5 separate regions of the Homo sapiens genome follow, and regions 2, 3, 4 and 5 are each linked to region 1. The links come from fine-mapping of genetic effects on gene expression. A gene starts in region 1. Each other region holds a variant in brackets. All regions are shown on one strand. Distances are between the middles of the regions. Region 1 holds the start of PRKCA (protein kinase C alpha). Region 2 overlaps PRKCA (protein kinase C alpha). Region 3 overlaps PRKCA (protein kinase C alpha). Region 4 has its middle 22 kb from the start of CACNG5. Region 5 overlaps PRKCA (protein kinase C alpha).

The links. PIP is the estimated chance that this variant, and not a neighbour inherited with it, causes the effect.
Region 2: its variant is fine-mapped to the expression of PRKCA in whole blood (TOPMed, PIP 0.94).
Region 3: its variant is fine-mapped to the expression of PRKCA in whole blood (TOPMed, PIP 0.95).
Region 4: its variant is fine-mapped to the expression of PRKCA in unexposed skin (GTEx, PIP above 0.99).
Region 5: its variant is fine-mapped to the expression of PRKCA in whole blood (TOPMed, PIP 0.91).

What each region holds. Positions count from the first base shown.
Region 1 is chr17:66,299,968-66,305,070 of GRCh38, forward strand. PRKCA (protein kinase C alpha) reads left to right here and starts at 2,646. Exons shown (of 17, transcript NM_002737.3): 1 at 2,646-3,057. The coding sequence starts at 2,885. RefSeq lists an enhancer at 3,440-3,941.
Region 2 is chr17:66,664,611-66,669,713 of GRCh38, forward strand. The region is part of intron 5 of PRKCA (protein kinase C alpha); the gene reads left to right. Among named protein-coding and RNA genes, the nearest start is that of MIR634, 120 kb to the right of the region's middle. The variant A/C (reference allele first, on the strand shown) is at 3,057.
Region 3 is chr17:66,362,314-66,367,416 of GRCh38, forward strand. The region is part of intron 2 of PRKCA (protein kinase C alpha); the gene reads left to right. It also overlaps the pseudogene RN7SL735P. Among named protein-coding and RNA genes, the nearest start is that of PRKCA-AS1, 52 kb to the right of the region's middle. The variant C/T (reference allele first, on the strand shown) is at 2,828.
Region 4 is chr17:66,810,867-66,815,969 of GRCh38, forward strand. No RefSeq gene overlaps it. Among named protein-coding and RNA genes, the nearest start is that of CACNG5, 22 kb to the right of the region's middle. The variant G/C (reference allele first, on the strand shown) is at 2,834.
Region 5 is chr17:66,804,616-66,809,718 of GRCh38, forward strand. It overlaps PRKCA (protein kinase C alpha), which reads left to right. Exons shown (of 17, transcript NM_002737.3): 17 at 1-5,103. Among named protein-coding and RNA genes, the nearest start is that of MIR634, 20 kb to the left of the region's middle. RefSeq lists an enhancer at 2,305-3,154. The variant C/T (reference allele first, on the strand shown) is at 2,203.

The sequences.
Region 1 (5,103 bases):
GAAAGACCGCTGGCTTCAAACCATTGGGATTCTGAGTCATCTGTTTGGTGGTCTGACTTTGATCCCAGCCTCCAGCCTCTGGGTCCCCCTGGTCTAGGTGACACCTCTCCAAACAGTGTTGAGCTTACTCCTCAAAGGCAGAGGACAGAAGCGGATTCTGAAAAACTCTGCGTTCAGTCTGACATTCCCTGTTCTTTTCCCGCACCTTCCCCATGAAATAGCAGACTCGAAAATAAAATTTACTCATGCCCTCATGACTGACTGACTACCCCCAACCCAGGGGGTTCTCCCGTCCTTAATCTCCTCCATTTTAGTTATACCATGGGGACTTCAGGTAGGCTGCAGGAGTAGATGCTGGCCCACATTTCCATCAGTCCTTGCTAGGGACAGTGTTACACTGCTTGGTAATTGATAAATCCCCACTCTGGGTGCACAGTCCCCTCTCCCCAACTGAGCTAAGATGTGGGCTATTGATGCTTTCATGCCCAGCCCAACCATGAATCAGTTGACTTCCAGTCAATCATTCCTCCTCGTACCCACCAGGAACAACACTAACAACTGAGGCAAGAATGCAAAGCCACAACCTAAAAGAAAACAGACACATTGTTCCATCTGATCTACTGACAGCTAAGACAGTCACTCCATGGAGTACACAGGAGATTCGCAGGCTGCTGCCAGGGCTCATTCTGTTCTTGTCTTTCCTATGACTTTACTCAGGATTCCATTATCAGCAACTTCACCCTCCAGCTCTCTCCATCCTCCTATGAAAGCCTCAGGGACATAGAAATAAGCTTGTCTTTGTAAAATGTGCCAGGATCTCCGTCTTAGATAAAAGACGACTATGAGAAAAGAAATTATTTCATTCCACTATGTTCCATTTGATTTCTGCTTTCAAGCAATAAACCACCATGGCTTGAGATGCTTCTAGTGTTTCATGGAGAATTGGGACTATTTCCCCAACATGCCCTGCTCTTCATTCCTCTTTGCTTCTTCCCTTTTTGACTCCTTGGACCCGAGGGGCGACCATGAGTGGCGAAATTTCTGACCAGCTAGAATACCAGGCAGGTGCAGGCTCTTGAAGCACCAAGACTGGCTCAAGAGATTGTAAATGGATCAGTCAAGTGCATGCACCACTGACGGCCAGTCAGGAGAGCTTCCATTTGTTAAAAATATAAAGGACATTCCTATCATCAAGCATCACAATTAGGCAATCTCAAAGAAAACAATATTAGCTCTACTTGGCCTATGTTACATGCTCTAAGAAAGTATTTTAGAAAAGTTTTTTTTTTCAACATAAATTTATTGAAGGATCAAACGTGTTCTCTTTCTTGGTCTCTTTAGCTCGTAAAGTCGTTTTGGGGATTTCGTGAATCTGGCAAATAAAACAAAACACCAATGAAACGCTGAGAAATGATTATTTCCCTTATGTATTTTAGCGGCCTCCAGGCAGACCTGATAAATATTCAGCGAGTGATTAGCTGGTGCATCCCCACCTGCGTCCTTTGCATAGCCATGCCCGCTACTCTTTCACAGGCAGTTTTACTTGGTAAGTTACAAACGTACTGGCTGCACTCTGCACCTGACAGTATTGCAGTAATTAGCTTGGGATGCAAAATGATTTCTAAATTAAGGTCCTGGACTTGTAAAATCAAGAAAGCCTGATAATCAACATCGTCGCTCTGGTGGCCATTGAATAACGGGATAAATACCTAAGACAAGTCCTTTAACCATCCCACGTGGTGATAAATGCCCGACGTACAAATTAAAAGTCTCTACCACACGCAGGTGAAATAAGGTATAGGTCAAGAAGAGAAGGTAGGGGAAAGGGTCAATGCTTAATTATTTAAAAATCGCTCTCTTCCTCCTGTAGGAAGGTCTAGGGGCTAGGTCTTTTAGTGCACACGTGATGAAAGTGACATTTTGGCCAGGTGAAACCTCAAGCTGGTACAGGCAGCTAAAACACGGGCGTCGTGCCCTGGAGACACCGGGGGTCCTGAGGATGGGGAAGGGGCTCCCTGCTGCGGGTGCTGAGGGGTTAGGAGGTGAGCACCGGGCGGGAGGCTCCGGGGCAGGGGCTGCGCGTGGAGCCCACTCCCGGACGCGGGCTCCTCTCGGCCCGGCACGGGTGGCGCAGGACTCCGAGCCCGTCGACAAGAGAGAGAGCGGGAGTGGGAGAAGGAAGACCGGGAGAGGAGGAGGCCGGGCGGCAAGAGCGGAAGAAGAGGAGGAGAACTGAGGCGGAGGAGGGCGAGAGGGAGGAGAGCCGGGCGCAGGAAGGGGAGGAAAGAAAAAGGCGGCGGAGGAGCGCGGACCCGCCACTCCCGGCCTCCTCCCCCGCATCCCCACTCGGGCCGGCCCTCCCCCGGCCGCCGCCGCCGCCGCCGCCGCCGCCGCCGCCGCCGCCGCCGCCTCCCCTTGCCCAGTGTTCCCAGCACCGCAAGGCACTCGCTGCCTCCTCCGCACTCGGTCCGGTCCGCTCAGCGCCGCCGCCGCCGCACCCTCGCCGCACCCCCGCGCGCGCCCGGCCCGCGCGCCCCCGCCGCTCGTCCTCGCGGCCTCGCGCTCGGGGCATGCGCGGTGGGCGGTGCCGCTCCGGGCCGCCTCTGCCGCCGCGAGTAGGAAGCGCGAGCGCCGGGCACCGGGCTGTCAGTGAGCCTGGGGCCAGCGGGCGAGCCAGCGGCTCCGGCTCCCGCTCCCGCTCCGCGCAGCACCAGCCCGACTCTCCCCGGCCCCCGCCGCGCCCCCTCGCCGCGACCTCGGCCACCGGCCCGCGCCCCGCGCCCGGGGTCGCCCCGAGCCCGCACCTCTCCCCCGCCGCCCCCGCCCACCCGGCCCTCCGCGGCCGCAGCTCCCCGGCGGAGGCAAGAGGTGGTTGGGGGGGACCATGGCTGACGTTTTCCCGGGCAACGACTCCACGGCGTCTCAGGACGTGGCCAACCGCTTCGCCCGCAAAGGGGCGCTGAGGCAGAAGAACGTGCACGAGGTGAAGGACCACAAATTCATCGCGCGCTTCTTCAAGCAGCCCACCTTCTGCAGCCACTGCACCGACTTCATCTGGTAGGTGCCGGGCCGGGCACTCCTGCCCCGCTCCTCCCCGCCTCCGGGTCCCGGCACCCGGCGCTCCGGCGCGTCCGCCCCGGGGCTGGCTCACTCCGATAACTTGGAACCGGCGGGAGTCCGAACTCTTCGCCCGGAGTGACACGCGCGCCCGGCCCTGACACCGGCGGGCAGGACTCCCGGGACGTCGCCGTCCCGCCACACACACCCCCTGGCGCGAGAGGGAGGCTGGCCCCGTACGGTGGCGAAGGGGATCCCTCTCCGGGCCGGGCCCCTCACCTCCCCGGGCGCGCCCACCCGCACGCACCCAGCGGAGCGGCCGCTTGCCGGGGTGTGAGCCCAGGGGACAGGGGAGGAGGAGAGGCCCTAAGGGGGCAAAGGTTCCCGGAGAAACGCGCCCCGGAGTAACGGGGGAGCGGCGGCGATTGCACTGCGCGCGGTCCAAGTTGCTGGCGAGCCAGGCTGGGCGCGTTCGGGGTGGGGGGGTTGTGTTTGTGCTTCCCATCGGGCTGGACTGCGCTGGCATCTTGGGCCCCTGCCTACTGTAGGCTGCATCTACTGGGCACGGAGAGACTGACTTTTCTGAGTGAGCAGAGAGAGAGAGAGCAAACTGTTGAAAGCTTGCAGTGGGGGAGGGGGAGTTCTAGCAGGCAAATGGCACAAGGGCAGAGGGACTCATTTAAAATAGACCCTGTCGGCCAGGCGCGGTGGCTCACGCCTGTAATCCCAGCACTTTGGGAGGCCGAGGCAGGCGGATCACCTAAGGTCAGTAGTTCGAGACCAGCCTGGCAAACATGGTGAAACCCCGTCTACTAAAAATACAAAATTAGCCGGGCGTGGTGGCACACGCCTGTAATCCCAGCTACTCGGGAGGCTGAGACGGGAGACTCGCTTGAACCCGGGAGGCGGAGGCTGCAGTGAGCCGAGATCGGGCCACTGCACTCCAGCCTGGGTGAGACAGAGCGAGATTCCGTCTCAAAAAAAATGAAACAGACCCTGTCAACTCGAGATTAGACCTGTAACCCTGTTGATGAGGGCAGAGGCCTTATTTAAGAAAAATAATATAAGGGCCAGAGGTCAGAGATCAGGTAATCGCCAATGAATTCAGGCATTCTTAACTCGGAGGGTCCCTGGGGGCTTATGGAGAATCGATACATAGAAGGGCTTCAGGGGTCTCTGAACCCTGTAAAACTGAGGGAAATTGTGTTTGTGAATCTTTTTCCTGGTGAGAGAATTACAGCTTTCATCTGATCCTCAAAAGGTGTGTGACCCTTCTTCCCAGATCCCCGTCACCACACAAAAGTTTTGAAAGCTGGAACTAAAGGAGCTCTAGGTCCTCTAGTTAGAGCAGCAGTAGTTTGGTTTTTCTTTTAAGTTGCCCGACGTCCTGACTCTTCTACCTCTTCTTTGTGGTGTAGGAAGTTCCGGGCAAGACAGAGCTATGGCTAGGGCTTCTTAGCTCCCTCTCCTTCTAGGCCAGGGGGAGCTGCACAGGGTGGCAGTCACGGAGTGAATCCTGCCACCAGCCAGCTGTGTGGCACAGGTATCTTGGGCCACTAGGGTGAGCATAGTATGGATGGCTCTGTCGGAATCCATCACACCTGGGGAAAAACATCCCAAAGGGCAGGTCCCATGATCGTGGTGCGAATAAGGTGTTTAATTTTTCCTTTCCTTTTTAGACATCTGCTCCCAAGTACACTTTTATGAAAAGCACAGCCACCTCTATGAGTGATTTCCACTGTCTAGTCGGCATATGAAGCGACTGTGCTCAAAGGAGTAGGTAGTCGTAGATAAGGCTATTTAAAATAAAAATTTCGGAGCATCAGGGCAAAGAGAATATTGCATTTGGTTAAGAGGAGGTCAGCTGTGAGAGTCCATTAAAAGGGAACAGACTGCTGGTGACTTTTGCAGGAAGTAGGAGAGTTAGAAAGGGACTTGCAGCATACTGAGGCTAGCTATTGTCTTTCCACTATCAGTTGCCCTTGAAGGATCAGCCCCTGGTGAGCTGAAGAGGCGCTCAGGTCACCACCAGTATTGTGAAGTGGA
Region 2 (5,103 bases), 360 kb after region 1:
AATTTCTTGTTTCTTTGGGGTTTTTGTTTTGCTTTGGTTTTTTTTTTTTTTTTTTTTTTTTTTGGCAATGTCTTGCTGTTTCACTCAGGCTGGAGGGCAGTGTTGCGATCATAGCTCACCGCAGCCATGATGAGCTGCCGGGCTCAAGTGATTCTTCTGCCTCAGCCCCTGTAGCTGGGACTACCACACCCAGATAATTTTTTAAATGTTTGTACAGATAGGGTCTGACCACATTACCAGGCTGGTCTCACACTCCTGGCCTCAAGCAATCTTCCCACCCCAGTCTACCAAAGTGATGGGATTACAGGTGTGAGCCACTGTGCCCGGCTCATTGCAGTTTTATATGCCAACCCTGAAAGCAGAAAATTGTATCCCCACTGAAGTGCTGGTTCCATGAACCCAGGATTTTTATGGGTCTTATTCATTGCAGAATCCCCGAACTCATGGTGCCTGGGACCCAGCATGTTCTCAGTGTGTGTCCGAATAACACTGGAGGGTTTTTTCTGGATGATACTGATAATTACAGAAGTTAAGAGTTATTAAGTGCTTATTTTGTGCCAAGCACTATGCCAAGGGTTTTACTTGTATAATCTTTTTTAATACTTAAACGGTTCCTATTGCATGAAACTCTTACCTTCATTTAAATGGAGGCATAGAGGATTTCAGGAACTTGCCAGGTGACAAGGTGGAGCTAGAACTTGAATCTAGGCAGAACATTTTTATCTGTGTCCTGAGAGTTTCCATGAGAACATGACCAAAAGGTTTTCTGGTATACGCTGAGTCACCTGCATGAGTGTTCATTCAGAACCATCCTCCCAACACCCTGCACAGTGGAGATGCCCTGAGAAGGGAGCATCGCTGGGCTTGGGGCTGAGTGTAGGAGTGGCAAGAGGGGGTCCAAGTACCTCCCATGGCTCATTAAAGTCACCTGAGTAGACCTGCTAAGCACTCACTCCTCCATGCCGGATTTCTCAAAGTGTGCTGCTGGTCTACCTGGAGTGGGGTAGAGTACTTCCCCACCCCAGGCTTCCTGAATCAGATTCTCTAAGAACAAGCGCAGAGCCTGCAAGTAAATTCTATTGTTAGTGAGTTCTCCAAGGTGGTTCTTAGGCACCTAACATTTGAGACCTGCAGCTATGGGTATTTTTGCTCCTAGCCTTGCGGTATGTTAGATTTACTTAAAAACATACAAGTGTCTATATGTTTGGGATGGTGTTGGAGGGAATTTATTAAAACTAGAGTTCTTCTTTATCCAGAAAAGCACACACATTAGGAAAGGCAATAGCATCTGAAGACAGAGGAGTGGCGTGTAGCTCATTTTGGCCTTTCCTGTTGAAGGCCCCCAGGTTCACTCTTGGGATGACCAGGCCCCTAGAGACCAATTCCAATGTAGTCCTGACTGGGCAGTCCATCAGGATGCCAGTTTATGAATTTACAGAGAACAATAAAGTTGACCATGTGACTTGATGAGAGCAATCAGTGTAGAGAAGATACCAGGCAAGGCATAATGAACCCATTTTATTGATTTGTCAAATTAAGCACCATCACATAGACTACATAGAGCAGAAATCCGCTTTGGGAGTGCCTTCTCCCCTACAGACAAACCTGAGGGGACTCAGAATGCTGCCTAGCAAACATAGAATTATAACAAGGGGATGTGATAAATGTTGGATGGCAGCAGACTAAGGTTTAACATTCATCTCAAGTTAGAGGCGGCTGCTGTGCTGCTGGGGCCAGAAGCACTTGAAGTCAAATGCTTAGATGCCGCTCCTTGGACCTGTGTCATAGGCTCTGCTGACATTTGCCTGGAGCCTCTGCTTTCTCGCTGCTCATTTGAACATATTCATACTGGACACAAGCTGGTCCTACAAGCCTAGTACCTCTCAGAACCCTCTCTCCTTCAGGGGACTTTGAGAAGCTCTGCTCTGATCCAATATTGATGAATCCAGTAGTTTGTTGATTTCCAAAGAAAGATCTTGCTTTCCTCATTTCCTACTACCCAAGGAAGGGAGAATCACCTCATTATGGCTCCAAATTTCAACAGATGTTATATAAAGGGCTATATAAGTATTCCTGTATCTTCATTCTTTGCAAAAATGCCTTCCCCAAAATCTGACTCTTTGTCTGTCAGATAAATGATATGTAGAATTTTGTATCTTACCTTCTAGGAGAAAGAGTAGTCGTAACTCTCCATGCCTCTCCAGGGAACCCTTTGAATCCCCCCCCCACACACAAATTTAGAGATTATTTCCAGGACAAAGGACTATATGAAGGACCCTTAACTATCTAGTACCCAGACTAGTAACGTAGACTTTGGTGATACCATGAAAACGAAGGCATAATCATGTGCTATGAAAATGGATTAGGAAGCAGCTTCTGTTCACAGTAGAAAGAATCTTAGAGATTTCCCTGTCCAGCCAACTCCTTTGTTTTCCAGACTGAATATAAAAACTCACTAAAGATTGCCCAAGAAAGTGAGCAGCAGGACAGAGCAAGCCGAAGGTCCCTGCCCAGTCCCTTCCCCCACCTCTGCCACCTTTTAAATCCCATCTGGAATGTCTGCGTGTTTAGTTCAGTTGGAGGTTAGGGATCTAGGAGGTAAAATGGCCACCAGGATGATGTCAAATCGAGTTAAACAGATACAGCCTTGGCCTTTAAAGAACAGACCACACTGGAGGCATATGTATTCATCCGTTCTTACACTGCTAATAAAGACATACCTGAGACTGGGTAATTTATCAAGGAAAAAGGTTTAATTGGCTCAGAGTTCAGCATGTCTAGGGATGCCTCAGGAAACTTACAATCATGGTGGAATCTTCACATGGCGGCAGCAAGGAGAAGTGCAGAGTAAAGCAGGGAAAAGCCCCTTATAAAGCCATCAGATCTTGTGAGAACTCACTCACTATCACAAGAACAGCATGGAGGTAACTGCCCCCATGACTCAGTTACCTCCCACCAGGTCCCTCCCACAACACATGGGGATTAGGGGAACTACAAGATGAGATTTGGGTGCAGACACAGGGCCAAACCACATCAAGGAACCACATTCAAAAGCC[A/C]CCCACACAGGGACAAGTTAACAACATGAAAGCAAAGGTAAGAGTGTCTGCCATGAGAACTGATGGTAGGCAGCTTAGATGTGAAGTGAGTGGCCAAGAGTAATTTATTCCTCTTCCAATTAACCAGACTTTCTAGAAACAGTGGAATTCCAAGAGCTACTTAAGAAATCGAGATATCCTTGCATTTCTGGATTGAATTGCGGTAACCAGTTGGTAACCTCTGAAATGCAATCTCTCTTATGTCCCTCTGAAATGTTAAGAAGATTCAGGAAGTGACAGAAACCCACGATCAAGACTGGCAAACCACTTACTGCCACCTTGGAGAAATTTCTGTTGCCCGTTAGCCCAGTGGTCAAGTGTTAAGAAACAATTATCAGTGGTCTGGCCATACTGGATGCATGAAAAAACCAAAGTCCTGCACACCTGAAAGAAAGCAAGAAGATTTTTTGGGCCTCCCCTTTTGCTCAGATAAACAGGGTCTTCGACCAGCCAAAAAACCTGGGAGGCACTCCTTTGCTATGGAGTTTCTCTCATTTCAGAGGACCAAAATAGTGTCTTCTCTCATCTTTCCATACAGTCTACAAATAGACTGTAACTTCCAAAGGAAAAAGAAAAGGGCTGTTGTTGGTGAGTTATGTCCTGAGGGTTAGCAGCTCTGCAAGCGAAGTATAGTGGACACAGGTGTGGAGGTGAGAAGAACTTCAGGGTCAGGGGATTCTAACTTTAAACGGACTTCACAGATTCAAGATGTGTAATTACCAAGCACTGTGAATTGGAATTACCAAGCACTGTGAATTGGATATGATCCTACCTGGCTCCAGCAAAAACACACTCGTCATTGGACTAAGAGCCATGAACATCAACTTGAGTGCCCTGGAAGAGGGAAGCAAGTTCTCTAGTGTCCCAGTAGACAGTGGATAGAGCCAATGTGGCATACAAACAGTATCTTTGGGCAAATAACACATCTAGATGTACTTGTCTTTGAGGACAAGTAAAGAAAGAAAACAAACCCAAAATATGGGGCCCATTTTTAAAACATGGGAGATAAAGGGATAGTATCATGGAGAACATATTTGAATATAGATTATTGGAAGAAAAGAAATTACAGAAGAGTATTTGAGAAAACTCCATACACATTATAATAGGGTGCAGGAGGCTGGGCACAGTGGCTTACACCTGTAATCCCAGCACTCTGGGAGGCCAAGGCAAAAGGATCACTTGAGGCCAGAAGTTTGAGACCAGCCTGGGCAACATAGCAAGTTCTGCCTCTACAAAAAAATTTAAAAATTAGCCAGGCATGGTGGCACACACCTGTAGTCCCAGCTACTCAGGAGATTGAGGTGGGAGGATTGTGGAGCCCATGAGTTCAAGGCTGCAGTGAGCTATGATCTCATCACTGCACTCCAGCCTGAGTGACATAGTGAGACCCTCTCTTTAAAAAAAAAAAAATGCACAATCTCTGTAAAACAGGAACATAATGCCATTTGAACAAACAGGTTGAGAGGAAAAGCAAGCAGAATGAGATTTTTTAAAATGATAGTGGGCTATATAAAGAGACAGAAAAGATGAAAGGAAGTGGACAAGTAAATGCCAGTTTCCAGTAAGGAAATTTATAGTACATAATTAAAATCTTTGTGGTGCAACAAACAGCAGAATTGGCATTGCAGAAAATCAAATCAGCGCTGTGCAAGAATCCTGGGAAGCTCTTCTAGAATGCAGGCAAAAGGACAAAACCATGGTGATGAAAGAGAGAATAATGAAAAATGGAAGACTGGGAACAGGATATAAATTGAGAATAATAGCTTTGTCCCAAAGATAAAAGAAGAAAAAATTGAAAAAGAAGCACTAATTCAATATGATAGGACCAAATTTATGGAGCATTCAAATGAAAAGGAATGCACTCTGTTCCTACAAAATTAACCAAAAGAAGTCTGCATTTAGAAGCATTCTGGGCTGGGTGCGGTGGCTCACACCTGTAATTGCAGCACTTTGGGAGGCCGAAGTTGGGCAGATCACTTGAACTCAGGAGTTCAAGACCAGCCTGGGC
Region 3 (5,103 bases), 62 kb after region 1:
AGGCATGAGCCACCACCATGCCCAGCTGGGTTGAGCTCTTTCTCACCTGTACCTTTTAGTGCCACTTCCTCTGAGCAGACTCTCCCACTCTTTAGCCTTCCTGATGCCTCTTGGCTCTCCAGGCTGGGTGTCATCTGTCCTCTGCTCAATTGTCCCACGATTTCCAATGTTCAATGTTATAATTGCCTGGTGGTTGTTGGATGCCTTCACTGGATCCTGAGCTCCTTAAGGTTGAGATAAGTCTCACTTTTGTGTCTCATGGGCCTGGGACACAGGAGATAACAGGTGAAGTCTGTTGATCTTACCTGATGGGGAAATGTATTTTTTCTGTCTCCCTCAACTAGTGAGGTGCCTTGCAGGTTTTTTTTTTTTTTTCCTCTTTGTTTTTTAATTTTTTGAGACAGAGTCTCAGTCTATATAGCCCAGGCTGGAGTGCAGTCGTGCGATCTTGGCTCACTGCGACCTCTGCCTCCCAGGTTCAAGCAATTCTTATGCCTCAGTCAGCCGAGTAGTTGGGATTACAGGCATGTGCCGCCATGCCAGGCTAATTTTTGTATTTTAGTAGAGATGGGATTTTGCCATGTTGTCCAGGCTGGTCTCAAACTCCTGGCCTCAGGGGATCCACCCGCCTCAGCCTCCCGAAGTGTTGAGATTACAGGTGTGAGCCACTGTGCCTGGCTGCCTTGCGGGCTTTTAGGCACCTCAATGTCTAGTTTTGTCAGAATAGCATCCTAGAGGTCTTAGAAATCTTACCTGTTGGAGAAAGTTTTAAAGTGCCCCAAACATCCCAGCAGTTGTACATCCTTTCACTCACACTAAAATTCATCCTGTTTTGCTTTCACAGGTATGTACATTTTGATGAAAAGACACTGCAAAGATGAGCACCAGCTAGCCAAATTGTGTAGTAAACATTGCATGTCTATCTGTGTGTGTTTTATTGTTTTGTTATTTTATTTAGTCAACCCTTTTGTTATTTTACCATAAGTTCATTTACACAGGGTAATCTTCTCCCATTACAGTTGCATGGAAGGAATCTTAGAGGAAACAGTTACTGATTTTCTTAGTGTGAGACCAGAAAAATGAAGCGTTGGTATTGGCCTTGGGGATTTGCTGTCCTTTATCCTCGGTAAAGCAAACCAGCCATCCGAATGTAAAGGCAGCTCCTTTCTTTCCATAAGTAATAAGTCATGATTTCTTAATGAGGCAAATTATCTATCATTTAGTGAATTCATAGTATTTGTTACAAGTAAATTCATTAAGAAAGAGCGCTATTCCAATAAAGCCAATTTAATTACGCAGACAATTAAGGGGCATCTTCCATGTGCTCTGCACTGTGCTAGCCACGGGGTGGATATAGAAATGGACAAACTAGGGATGGGCTTATTTATTTATTTATTTGTTTGTTTTGAGACGGAGTCTCACCCTGTCACCCAGGCTGGAGTGCAGTGGCACGATCTTGGCTCACTGCAACCTCTGCCTCCCGGGTTCAAACGATTCTTCTGCCTCAGCCTCCCGAGTACCTGGGACTACAGGCGCGTGCCACCATGCCTGGCTAATTTTTGTATTTTTAGTAGAGATGGGGTTTCAGCATATTGGCCAGGCTGGTCTGAAACTCCTGACCTTGTGATCTGCCTGCCTTGGCCTCCCAAATTGCTGGGATTACAGGCATGAGTCACCGTGCCTGGCCTGGAATGGGCTTTTTAAAGGAGATTATAGCCAAGGGCAGTGGTGTGCACCTGTAGTCCCAGCTACTCAGGAGGCTGAGGCAGGAGGATCACTTGAGCTCAGGAGCACTGAGCTGTAGTGCACTGTGCCAGTTGAGTGCACTAAGTTTGGCATCAATATGGTGACCTCCCAGGAGTCGGGGACCACCAGGTTGCCTGAGGGAGGTGTGAACCTACCCAGGTCAGAACTGGAGCAGATCAAGACTCCCATGCTGATCAGTAGTGGGATCTCACCTGTGAATAGCCACTGCACTCCAGCCTGACCAACATAGACCCCATCTCAATCAATCAGTAAATTCATTTATTCATTCATAGGAATCACAGACAAGGGAGTCACTTACCATAAAAAATATACAAAATAAATGACTCCAGAGGCATAAAACCAAAGGGGTTTTGTGCCAAAAAATAGGAATCAAGGAAGTAACATTTGAATTTGATCTTAGGGAATGGATGTACCTTAAACAAGTAGCCCTGTATGGAGAAGAGGAGAGAGGGAACGATAATGAAGAACAGAGACGTGGAGGCCGGAAGATGCCAGCTCTACCAGAAAAAGTAGCAAAAGTCAATGTGATTGAAGTAGGGGGAGTGCGGGAGCAGGGAGGGTGTGATTGATGCCTGGCAGCTGCCCGTAACGTATGATGCAGTATGGTTTTCGCCTGATTTGGGGTTTCCAGTTCTCCCTGGCTGCTGACGGGGCTCCCTCAGGCACACATTAATGGATTCACTCAGCCAGTGATTTTTCTGTTTTCTCTTTCATTTCCACTTTTCTATCCCATCATGGTTTTCTGCATAACCCCATCTGATTTTAGACCAATTTTGATGTGATTTTTTTCTTCTACGTGAGTGGCTCAGTGAAGGCTTTCGAATACTATTTTCCCACTTGCATACTGTTTCAGAACTGAAGAAGGTAAAATCTAATTGTACCAGGTTTTTGAAAAGCAGTAGTTTCCATTGTATGTGTTTAAAAAGTCCCCAAAGGTCTATCTGTAAGAATCTTTGAAAAGACACATTGCAGCCCAAACCTTAGGAGAAAAGAAAAAGGGGACTTCACATTGTAAAAGCAGCATTTATCTTTGCATCTTGAAGTTCCTAGAATAGGCTCT[C/T]GCCTTTATAAGTGGAGTTTTCTTGTGGCTTTTGTGGGGAGAATTCACTAGAATTAGGGCAGATTTTCTGGAAAGTCCCGAAATTCAGTGTTCTGTTGGATTTCTGGCATCTATTGAGCAAGACAGTTGGGATAATGAGTCTTGGTATTAAATGTATTCTACGGGAGGGAGGAGAGAGAAGTGGGAGGAAGGTGTATCCGTCTTGCTGGCTTCCTGCAGCTTAAGTAGGAGGAAGAAAAGGAGAGGGTGTGAGTAGATGACCCAAGCCCTGGACTAAGCCCTTTAGGTACATGATCTCATTTAATCCCCTTTTCAGAGGAAACTGCCTGAGATATGTTTGACCCAGGCTTTGTGCTCTTAGCCACTAAATGGCTTCCCTTTACTGATGATTTTACTCTGCCTTTATCCTATAGTTACTTATAGGCAGCTATATTTACTTCCTCCAAATAGATTAACTCTTTGTATACTCTTTGGTACCTGGAATAAGTCCTGTGTAATCCTAAACGCTCAATAAATATTTCTTAAAATGAAGATAATTCTCCTTGACAGAAAATTGATCTTACTGAGCATATATCCACTGAGAAAACAGACGTATGAATGTTTAATACTCCCTGATTATCGTATGCTTTCTTATTTAAGCAGAAGTATTAAACGCATGCCAAAGGCTCACATAAATGATTTATTATGCACCAATTAACGTTATCTGAGCCATGGTTTTTCTTTGTTGTTATGAATTGAGCATTGACAGCAAGGCAGCACTCATTTACCTTTTGTTTCTATGCAGAAAACATTTCAAATAGGCAACTGTTGTCTCTCCTGAGTAGTCTGAGAAATGTGAATGGAGACATTTGTATTAGGTGTCCATCTCGTGACCAATATGCTTTGTACTTTTGAAGTTTGCTTTATCCTTAAGATTGTGAGAACTGTAAATCTGCCACTGGAACCATCCCTGCAGATTGTCATAATGTGATCAGCTCTAAAAAGCTTCCTGCTTTTTAGAGTGTGTACCCTTAAGGATAACAATCATATAGATAACCTTTTAGATGTCAACACAGGCGATCTTTTTATGTGTTTTATTCATGATGCAATTTACAGTACTTAAAGGAAAAAAAATCCAGAAGCCTTACAAGGTCTTTAATAAGTACAAATATAGATTGCTATAGGTAGAAAGTATGCTTTAAAGCAAACTTTTTTACACCATTTTCTGAGGCTTTTATTAATTACTCTGTTTTCCAGCGAGGCTTTTTCATAGGGATATGCACCTGACTAACTTATTAAAAGTAAATTGCCTTTGTGGTCTTATTTTCAGGGCGTGGTGCTGAAGTTAGAAGGCGATTGGGCAGTTTTGTTTTCTACAGAGAAAACACAATCTGGGAAGAGATCTTAATTGACCTATTAGCTGAATTGAGGAGATGAATTAGTTGTAGAAAATTTGTCAAAGTTAAATAATAGCAGTGAGTTTGAAGGGGTGAGCTAGCAGAACTAGAAGAGAAAGGAGAATGAGAAGTAACTCACAGGCCAGCTGCATAATGGGTAGAGCGAGCTATAGGTGAACTGTGAGTAGCTGGCTTGCTCTGTTGGCTGAATTCCTTGAAAAGAAAGGATGAGACATTTTTACTCCAGTAAATCTTATGTGTATCTCTTGTGGATTGAAGAAATTATTGACTCAATATGATTTAAGTTAGAGACAAAGCACACTCACAAAATTCCAAAATCAGTCTTTTAAAAAAAGCACTTCATAGTGAGCAAATTTTAAATTAAATCATCATCTAAATTGTGACATGCATTGAGAGGAACAGGTGAGGTTTTTACTCCACGTTGGTCTCCATGTAACAATAATTTTCATGTCAAAATGATCTTTTCAGGTTTTCAGGTTGCCCTCTTCCCCTCTCCTTTCTGTTTTCAGATAATTGGATGAAAGTAAAATCTTTTGAAAACATTGCTTTCAGCGTGCCAAAAGCAAGGCATTTATAACTGGCCTCAATTTGCAAACAATTTAGGAGTTTGATAAGTTTCTAACAGGACCATGGTGAGTTCACAAAATCTGATTTCTTTAATGGAAACAAAAAGTGTGCTTTGTGGAAGTTGATGTTAGGAATTACAAAGAAACCCACTGTTCAGCACAAGTGCGCAGGCCTTTGGCCAAGAATTCCTCAGCTTGGAACCTGAGCTAAGAAAAAGCCCCTGGTCACACCTGTGGATAAAAGACTTAGTGAGAGCTGGGAGGACAGGTGAAAAATGATGGTTTGGAAGCCAGAGACTGTTAAATAGAAGTG
Region 4 (5,103 bases), 510 kb after region 1:
TTTCAGGCATGACCCTCCATTTATAGTGGCATTTTTTTTTTTTTTTTTTTTTTTTTTTTACTTAAAAAATATATCTTGCTTTGAATCAAAGCCCAGACAGTGACTGGGATGGCGTTCTGGCAGGTCCTGCGTTCATTCATTCATGCACTGTTCACAGAGCCCCTGCTTAGGGCCAGGAGTTGTGTCAGGCCCTGGAGAAGAAGAGGCTGGCATGGCCCCTGCCTGCACGGAGCTTACAGTCTTCTGCCCCAAACTGCAAGGGATGCCCAGCAACTGATGACATCATCTAAGGCTGGATGGTGCCCTTCCCCTGGAAGGAACGATTCCAGAATGAATTCTGCTCAAGTCTGGAGATGTTTTCTCCAAAAATAGGTATTTTTCACACATCCCGTTGGCCACACTGTGGATGCAGCTTCAGGACCGTCCCCACTCTGAGTGTCAGCCGCCTCGTTCTGCATTTATTCACGGTTGAAAAATTGGGGGAAATGTTCAAATGTGGAACATTCAAAAATACCCAGCACTTAACAACTCAACGCAATAGAGGGAATTGTCCTCAAAAAGAATTAAAACAGGCTGGGTATGGTGGCTGATGCCCATAATCCCAGCACTTTGGGAGGCCAAGGTGGGAGGATCACTTGAGGCCGGGAGGTCAATGCTGCAGTGAGCTACGATTGCACCACTGCACTGTAGCCTGGGTGACAGAAGGAGACCTTGTCTCTTAAAAAAAAAAATCAACAACAAACACCAAAGCCAAGATCCAACCTTGGTAAAGTCAATCTTTGCTGATTTCCTCACCTCCTTTTGGGGAATGCTCTCCCCTCGTGCTCATGGCTTCAACCCACTGCTGCCACCCTCCCTCCCATAGCCCCCTAATCCTGCAGCCGCCCAGCCCAGCCTGTTCCTCCCAGCACACTCTGCATCCACACACATGCCTCCCTGCGTTCTCTTCCCTCTGGGCCTTGCTCCCAGCCAGATTACTCGAGTGTCAGCATCCTCTCAGTGGATTTTTCCCTCCCTAAGATGCCGCGGTCACACTCAACCTCCTGGAAGTGAAGGCTCTTTCAGCTGCCAATGCGAGGGCTGGCGGGGAAGCTATTTTGAAGAAAAACAAAGGGCAATTTTCAGGTCTTCAGAGCAATGTGGTCTCTGCCCCACTGGGCTGGCCCTGACCTTCACTCCGGGCTGGTTGACCTCACATACGTGTGTAGCTGTGGCTATTCGTCACGTTACGTTGCCCAGCAGAGTAGCTTACCATGGCCATTGAGCATGCCCTCTGCTTCCGCCAGTGTGCTGTTTTATTTCATTTTTGCTGCAATGCGGAATGAAGCAGAGTGGGCCACCAAGCAGCATCCTCACAGGCAGCTGGTGACCCGAGGAACTGAGTAGCTCCACCCAAGTTTACCCCTGCAGGGAGGTCTCGGGTGTATCCAATATGGCTGGTCCTCCCGGCCCCACAGAGGCAGCAGGGACAACCTGAGCACCAGGCAGTGGACAATTGCTCTTCCAGGGGCACTGTGCGCCACCCAAAGTGGATGCTCAAAAACGAGTCCTTCTGTCCAGTACTGGCCTCCCTGTCACATGCCCACCATGCCCATCAAGTTCATGAGCAGGCACTGTTGGGGCTACTCTAAGTCAGGGTTCTCGGCCAGAGGCCATGTAGCCACCCACGGGGCACTTGGCAATGCCTGGAGACTGTTTTGGTTATCATAACTAGAAGGAAGTTGCATTGGCATCGAGTGGGTAGAGGCCAGGGGCGCTGCTAAGCATCCTGCCATGCACAGGATACCCCCAGCCCTCAACAAGGTGTCATCCCACCCAAATGTCGGCGCTGCTGCTGTTACAAACCCTATTCTAAAACACACTCCGAGTTCCCCTTCTCTCCATCTCCCCTGTTCTTTCTCTCTGGCCTCCTTGACCCTCATGGCCCTCTCTGCTCAGCAGCCAGCAGGACCTTGCCTGAGCAGGCCCCTTCCCTGTTGAAAGCCCTCTGTGGCTCCCATCACCCAGCCTTCCTCATGGCCTTTCATCCTCACATGCCCAGCTCTGGGACCAAGGATTCAATGGTTGGGGAGAGTGAGTTCTCTCTCTCTCTGTCTCTGTCTCTCTCTCTCTCTCTCTCTCTCTCTCTGTGTGTGTGTGTGTGTGTGTGTATACGCACACCCTTTCCCATGAGAATAGAAGCTCTAAGAGGAGCCGGCTTGTCCATCCTGTTTGCTGCTACATCCCAGTGCCTAGAGCAGAGCCTGGTAGATAATAGGAGCTCAAAATGTTCATTGAATGACTGAGTCAATTAATCGTTCCCAAAACTGCTCTGAGCCTAGCAACGTGTTCCAGACACCCTTACTGGGCCATGGGATTTGCCCTGGAGGTGTTCACACACTAATGAAGTAGATAAGATATACAAAAAAGAACTAATTAAAGATCATCTCTCAAACTCATGATGAGCTTCAGCCTAGGAAACACCAGTTCTCAACCTCTGTCCTTCAGCCCAGAATCTAGAGGCGATGGCTGCCTATGGTTACACTTGAGTGATTATTTAACTCCCTGAGCTTCCCCCCTGCCCCTGGCTTATTGTGTGCTCTGGGGATGAAATTATGGTTCAGCTAAAATGCTAATGCACACGGGCAAAGGCCAAGGCCATCTATTTTCACACTCTGTCCCCATCCTGGGAGTGCACATCACAGAGAGCAGGGCATTGCCTGCAGGGAGTGGGTGAGAAGTGCTTTTGGCTCTAAGAAAGCAGAACTGGATGTCTCCCCAAGATTCTTTTTTTAACAAAGCTAATTCAATAAATACATTGCAAAGAGGCCTATTCTAGCCATAAGGGGAGAAA[G/C]TGGAAAATGGTTCTAGTGAAATGAAAGAGCTAGTGGTGGGCTCAGGGACTCAACAGACAGGTGGAAATGGCACAAACCAAAAGTCTAAAGGGGGCTGTAAATGGGAACGCGCAAACTGTGCACGCACACACACACGAACACACATGCATACAGAGATGCACACACACACATGCACACAGACACGCAAACACACGCATGCACACAGACACATGTGCACACACAGAGGCACACACACTGATTGATTACCAGAAGTGTACCAGGCACTCTTCTAAGTTCTTTATGTGCATTTATTTCAATCCCACAATGACAGCCCCTGCCCCCAGATAGGTGCTGTTTACTGTGCCCATTTTACAGAAGAAGAAAGGGAATTCCAGGGAACTTAAATAACAACACATAGGTGAACAACACCAGACAAATGGAGCCAACCGAAAGAGCAGAGATGTGAGCACGCCAGATGCCTTCCTGGGGGAGGAGGCAGGGAGGCTGAGGTCTGATGGAAAGGCTGGAAAGGAGAGGTCCCAAACAAGCAGACACCAGCACGCAGGGAGGAGGGGAAGGGCTGGCATGCGCGCAGTGCCTAGCTTGTCATCTGAACACACCCATCTCATTTAATCCTCATGACACCTCCATGGGCTGGAGGCCATTGTTCACATCTCACAGATGGAGAAACTGAACCCCAAAGTAATTAACCAGCTTCCAGATACGCAACTCCTAAGCAGCACAGCCAGGCTGGGCACTGAGTCTGATCTTCCTAGCCTTGTCCCATGAGAGGGTCAGATGTAGCATTGGGTAGGGAGCTTCAGGGCCAGACCCTGTTGGGGAACTTCTCCCCCCACTGTGGTTTCATTCAAAGTCCATCCTATTACCAAGGGGGATGTTCCTTGCCCTTAGCTGACTCTGATGCCTATGAGACTAGATGCCCTCCTGGAACTGTTTCCAGAAGGCTTTCTTCCACCATCACCCTCCTTCTCTCGACATTTTTTTTTTTTTTGGAGCTGTCTGGGCGTGGGAGGAGAGAGAAAAATAGCATCACAGTTCTCAGAACACAGCAGGTGCCTCTGCAGCCGCCCTCACCTGACTGACTTGCCTGGAAGGCCCAGGAGGAAGGAGGAAGCGGGCAGGAACGGCTGGTGGGCCCCAGGCTCCCCCTCCCACCACAGGACAGCCCTACATTGAGACCCCAGCTCCACCTACCCCAGGAGTCAAAAACAATCCAAGGCAAGCATCATCCAGTGAGCAGAACAACTTGTGAGAAATCACTGATTTCTTGGGGGCACTGGGCAGCCCGGGGAGGAAAGGTTGGGCTTGGTTAGGTCAGAATACTGTGGGAATGCTTCTGGGTTTTTGGAAAATTTACAAAAAATAACACCTGCTTATTGTAGCTAATACAGATGAGGAAAAGAAAATCCCAACTTCCCAAGATGGTTAAACTTTTTGATTCCTTGCTAACTTTATTTATTATTCATCATCTTGTTATCTTTTCAAGACTGTACCATGGTATTAGCCTGTTTTCACGCTGCTGATAGAGACATACACGAGACTGAGTAATTTACAAAGAAAAAGAGGTTTAATGGACTCACAGTTCCACGTGGCTGGGGGTGGGGTGCTCACAATCATGATAGAAGGCGAAAGGCATGTCTTACATGACGGCAGACAAGAGAGAATGAGAATCAACTGAAAGGGATAACCTTGATAAAACCATCAGATCTCACGAGACTTATTCACTGCCACGAGAATAGTATGGGGGAAACCGCCTCCATGATTCTATTATCTCCCACTGAGTCCCTCCCACAACACATGGGAATTATGGGAGCTACAATTCGAGATGAGATTTGGGTGGGGACACAGACAAACCATATCAACCTCAAAGCCCTCTTATGAGACTCCACTGGGCCTTGACATTGGTCACTGAAAGCTAGGATCACAGATGTTAACACACACATCCTTTAAACATTTTGTTATGACTTTTTTTTTTTTTGAGGCGGAGTTTCACTTTGTTGCCCAGGCTGGAGTGCAGTGGTGTGATCTTGGCTCACTGCAACCTCCACCCCCCGAGTTCAAGCAATTATCCTGCCTCAACCTCCCGAGTAGCTGCGACTACAGGTTTGCATCATCATGCCCGGCTAATTTTTGTATTTTTAGCAGAGGCGGGTTTTCACTATGTTGGCCAGGCTGGTCTCGAACTCCTGACCTTGTGATCCACCCGCCTCAGCCTCCCAAAGTGCTGGGATTACAGGTGTGAGCCACCGTGCCTGGCCTTTATTGTAAC
Region 5 (5,103 bases), 500 kb after region 1:
AATCCTAACCCAACCATGGTCCAGCAGTTACCAGTTTAAACAAAAAAACCTCAGATGAGTGTTGGGTGAATCTGTCATCTGGTACCCTCCTTGGTTGATAACTGTCTTGATACTTTTCATTCTTTGTAAGAGGCCAAATCGTCTAAGGACGTTGCTGAACAAGCGTGTGAAATCATTTCAGATCAAGGATAAGCCAGTGTGTACATATGTTCATTTTAATCTCTGGGAGATTATTTTTCCATCCAGGGTGCCATCAGTAATCATGCCACTACTCACCAGTGTTGTTCACCAACACCCACCCCCACACACACCAACATTTTGCTGCCTACCTTGTTATCCTTCTCAAGAAGCTGAAGTGTACGCCCTCTCCCCTTTTGTGCTTATTTATTTAATAGGCTGCAGTGTCGCTTATGAAAGTACGATGTACAGTAACTTAATGGAAGTGCTGACTCTAGCATCAGCCTCTACCGATTGATTTTCCTCCCTTCTCTAGCCCTGGATGTCCACTTAGGGATAAAAAGAATATGGTTTTGGTTCCCATTTCTAGTTCACGTTGAATGACAGGCCTGGAGCTGTAGAATCAGGAAACCCGGATGCCTAACAGCTCAAAGATGTTTTGTTAATAGAAGGATTTTAATACGTTTTGCAAATGCATCATGCAATGAATTTTGCATGTTTATAATAAACCTTAATAACAAGTGAATCTATATTATTGATATAATCGTATCAAGTATAAAGAGAGTATTATAATAATTTTATAAGACACAATTGTGCTCTATTTGTGCAGGTTCTTGTTTCTAATCCTCTTTTCTAATTAAGTTTTAGCTGAATCCCTTGCTTCTGTGCTTTCCCTCCCTGCACATGGGCACTGTATCAGATAGATTACTTTTTAAATGTAGATAAAATTTCAAAAATGAATGGCTAGTTTACGTGATAGATTAGGCTCTTACTACATATGTGTGTGTATATATATGTATTTGATTCTACCTGCAAACAAATTTTTATTGGTGAGGACTATTTTTGAGCTGACACTCCCTCTTAGTTTCTTCATGTCACCTTTCGTCCTGGTTCCTCCGCCACTCTTCCTCTTGGGGACAACAGGAAGTGTCTGATTCCAGTCTGCCTAGTACGTTGGTACACACGTGGCATTGCCGCAGCACCTGGGCTGACCTTTGTGTGTGCGTGTGTGTGTGTTTCCTTCTTCCCTTCAGCCTGTGACTGTTGCTGACTCCAGGGGTGGGAGGGATGGGGAGACTCCCCTCTTGCTGTGTGTACTGGACACGCAGGAAGCATGCTGTCTTGCTGCCTCTGCAACGACCTGTCGTTTGCTCCAGCATGCACAAACTTCGTGAGACCAACACAGCCGTGCCCTGCAGGCACCAGCACGTGCTTTTCAGAGGCTGCGGACTTTCTTCCAGCCATTGTGGCATTGGCCTTTCCAGTCTTGGGAGGAGCGCGCTGCTTTGGTGAGACACCCCCATGCAAGGTCCTCAGAGTAGCCGGGTTCTACCACAAACAGAAACAGAATGAAAGTAGCTGTCAGTCCTTGTAGAGAGCCGCTCTGTTTCCTCCCAGAAGCATCTCCCAGCTAAGCTCGCATTATTTTTCTCCTCTGGCTGTTTGCCTGAAGTTCACAGAACACACAACCATGAAAGGCTTTTTGAGGTGAGAGGCCCAGGTGGTCCTGGCAACCCTGAGTAGAAGGAGAGACGGGGTAGGGAACGGGCCCGGCCAGAAAAGAACCATTTCTTCTGCCATCTTTTATGCACCATAGACATCGAGACTCCAGGGGGTCCTGGCTCCCCTGTCCCTGCAGCCCTGCAGGTCAGTGCATGATCTGGGTTCGTGTCCTGACCAGGTGCTCCTCCTTTGATCCGAGGGGAAAGGGACTGGTTTATAGAAAGAGCCTAGGAGACAAAAGGGCCAGTCCCCCTGCCCAGAATGGAGCAGCAGCAGGACAGACCCCCACGAGGCCCCCCAGAGAGGAGGAAGATCCCACGGAGGAACACATGAGGTTAGGGACCCTTGTTCAGCACCCCAAACAGCCTGCCTGTTTAAAGCAGGCAGCAGGCTTAGGCCTTCCCTGCAACCCCAACACCCACAAGTTTGTTTCTCTAGGAAACACATTCACTGTCTCAGCTGGCTGTTACTCTCTCAGACCATATGGCAAAGTTTTCCAAGAAAATGCCCCGACAGGGGTGC[C/T]CAGCACACTGCCTGAGGGACAACAGACATCAGAACAAACCCCCAGAGAGAAACAGTCAAAATCAGGGCCCGGTGCAGTGTTGTCATGTGGAACCTGCTTTATCCATTGCTGAGTGTTGAATGTGGGTAATGGTTAGGGCTTTCCAGATCTCAGCAGCCAAAGACAGTTATTGTTGGAAGACTGTCATGTAGATAACCATGAGCAATGGCTCGCCTCAGAATCAGTTCATAAAATTCTATGGTACTGGCCCCTTCGTGGGTATTGTGTGAAATGAGATGGTGGCGAGGGGTGCGCTGTGGAACTGCCGCAGCCACGCAGGAGGTCCCTGGGGGATGCTTTGGGAAGTCCTTGCCCCTGAGCACTGCCTGATTGCCAGGGCCTGTGGAGGTCTAGGCCGCCTGGCAGAATCTAGCACCGTCCGAATCCCCGCAGGACCCATGGAGCTATGACCACACCAGGCCATTCAAATGGCTCTGCATTATCTTCCCTTGGAAGGTGGCCACTCCTCGGTGGCAGGGCCTTTCCCTGAGGCTGCAGGCCGTGGGCTGGCAGCCCGTCTCTTGGCATTTCAATTGAAGGTCACCAGGTGCTGGGTTTGAAAGGAAGTCACTGGAGTGCTGCCAGGGGCCGCCCTCCAAGGTTAATGAGAGGCCCACATCCAGGCAAGAACTAATTCAAAAGGCAGATCAGAAACCACAGGAGTCAAAATTATTGCTCCGGCAGTGCTTCCCTTCCTTTCATCCACTGGCCTCGTGTGGTCCATGCAGGGCCACTGTCTGCCCTTTCTGATGCCACGTATTAGGCTTTCTTACTCAGAATTTTGATAGAAAACCATGGGGCCAAGAGCTCTGGAAGCCTGGCCGGAAAGACCAAGGTTCATGCAGCCCAACAAATGATTGTTGAGCACCTCTCGGAGCCAAAGTCCTTAGGCGAGTGTGGTGACTTCCTGGAAGGAGGATGCAGACTTCCAGAGAGCCCCCCCAACGGACGTGCTGAGAAGGGAGAGGGAGGCGGGGGCTGTAGTCAGGAAGGAGCCAGAGAAGAACAGGGTTTGGGTGCATCCAGAAATATGCCTGCAGTAGGAGGGAGAGGAAGGGGTGCCACCGTCAACGGCTTCCCATCGGAGGTGGTTGGTGCAGATGGAAGTTTCTGTCTGCTGGCCCTCAAGAGAGTGTTTTGCCAGGGACACAGTCTGTTCCTCCTCAGAAAACACCCCCCAAATGCTAACAACATCCCCACCAGCTGCTAGAAGCCCCTTTCCCCTCCCCACCTTGAAGTAGCTCATAGTTCTCTGGGCAGAGCCAGACCATCCAGTGTACCCCAGAGGCCAGTAGGTTCCTGCCCATTTTCCTCTCTGGCTTCCTGCCAAGAATTATGGCAGCTGAGGATGAATGGAGAAGTAAAAACAACTAACACCGCACAACTAACAACTAACACCGCAGTTCCCACCTGGGTTCCACTTAGCAGGAGACATTTCGGAGGGTTTTTTTTGTTTTTGTTCCTGTTTTTTTTTTTTTTGCTGGAATTTGTTTTCTCAGTACTGAAAAGAGAAAAAGTGACAATCTTGTATTTTTAAAAGCCTCGGAAAGGTGATACCATCTGACAGTCATTTTCTCACGTTGGTCTTCTAAAGTCACCTATTTCTTGTGTGTGCACATCACACCATTTCCTGTTTCTTTATAACCCGACAAGGGTAGGAGTGCCTGTTTCCCCTGCTGGGCACACCAGACAATCGTAATCACAAAACAGACACTGAGCCAGGGGCCCAAAGGGTGTGATCATGAGAGTTACCGGGACAGCAGTAGGCATGACAGTCACCAGGAAGGACAAGGGTGCTCTGTTGTTAGTGGCCACACACCAATTTGACAAGGAGTGTTGCGAAATTTTTATTTATTTATTTATTTATTTTGAGATGGAGTTTCACTCTTGTTGCCCAGGCTGGAGTGCGGTGGTACAATCTCGGCTCACTGCAACCTCCACCTCCCAGGTTCAAGCGATTCTCCTGCCTCAGCCTCCCAAGTACCTGGGACTACAGGTGCGTGCCACCACACCCAGCTAAATTTTGTGTTTTTAGTAGAGATGGGGTTTCACCATGTTGGCCAGGATGGTCTTGAACCCCTGACCTCATGATCTGCCTGCCTCGGCCTCCCAAAGTGCTGGGATTACAGGCATGAGCCACCACGCCCAGCCAAAATATTTTTTTAAAGTCATTTTCCTTAAGCTGCTTGGGCTACATGTGAAATACACTGGACGGTCAACATTCCTGTCTCCTCCCATTTGGGCTGATGCAGCAGATCCAGGGAATGTTACCTGTTTCTGCTGCTAGAAGATCCAGGAAATTGGGAAGGTTACCTGACGCACACATGGATGAAGGCCATCATCTAGAAATGGGGTCAACCACAATTGTGTTAATTCCGTAGTGTCAGGGATTCTTCGGGAAGGTCAACAGTATGAAGGATTCTGACCCCTGTGCCTCCCATTTATGTGATCAGGTGACAGTTAATAACCGTGGAGGTCACACTCAGCCATCCAACAGCCTTACAGTGACCCTACACAAAAGCCCCCAAATTCCAAAGACTTTTTCTTAACCTAAAGGAAGAAATTATTTGTTAATTCCAGTAGAGCAACTGAATATACTGGGCTATTTGTACTTTTTTATAGAGAACTTTAATAATAATTCTTTAAAAATGAGTTTTTAGAACAAAGCAACTGACGATTTCCTAAGATTCCAATGCCCTGGAGCTTGTAGGAGGACTTAGCCTGGGTCAGCTGGAGCACCCCCGACCTGATCTCCCACTGCCAGATTTTCCCATGCTCCTAGGGTATGGAGTCCACGTGGGAATGACTGCAAGTTCAGGTGGAACTTGGCCGACTGATGCTCTGCGAGTTTTTAATAGACA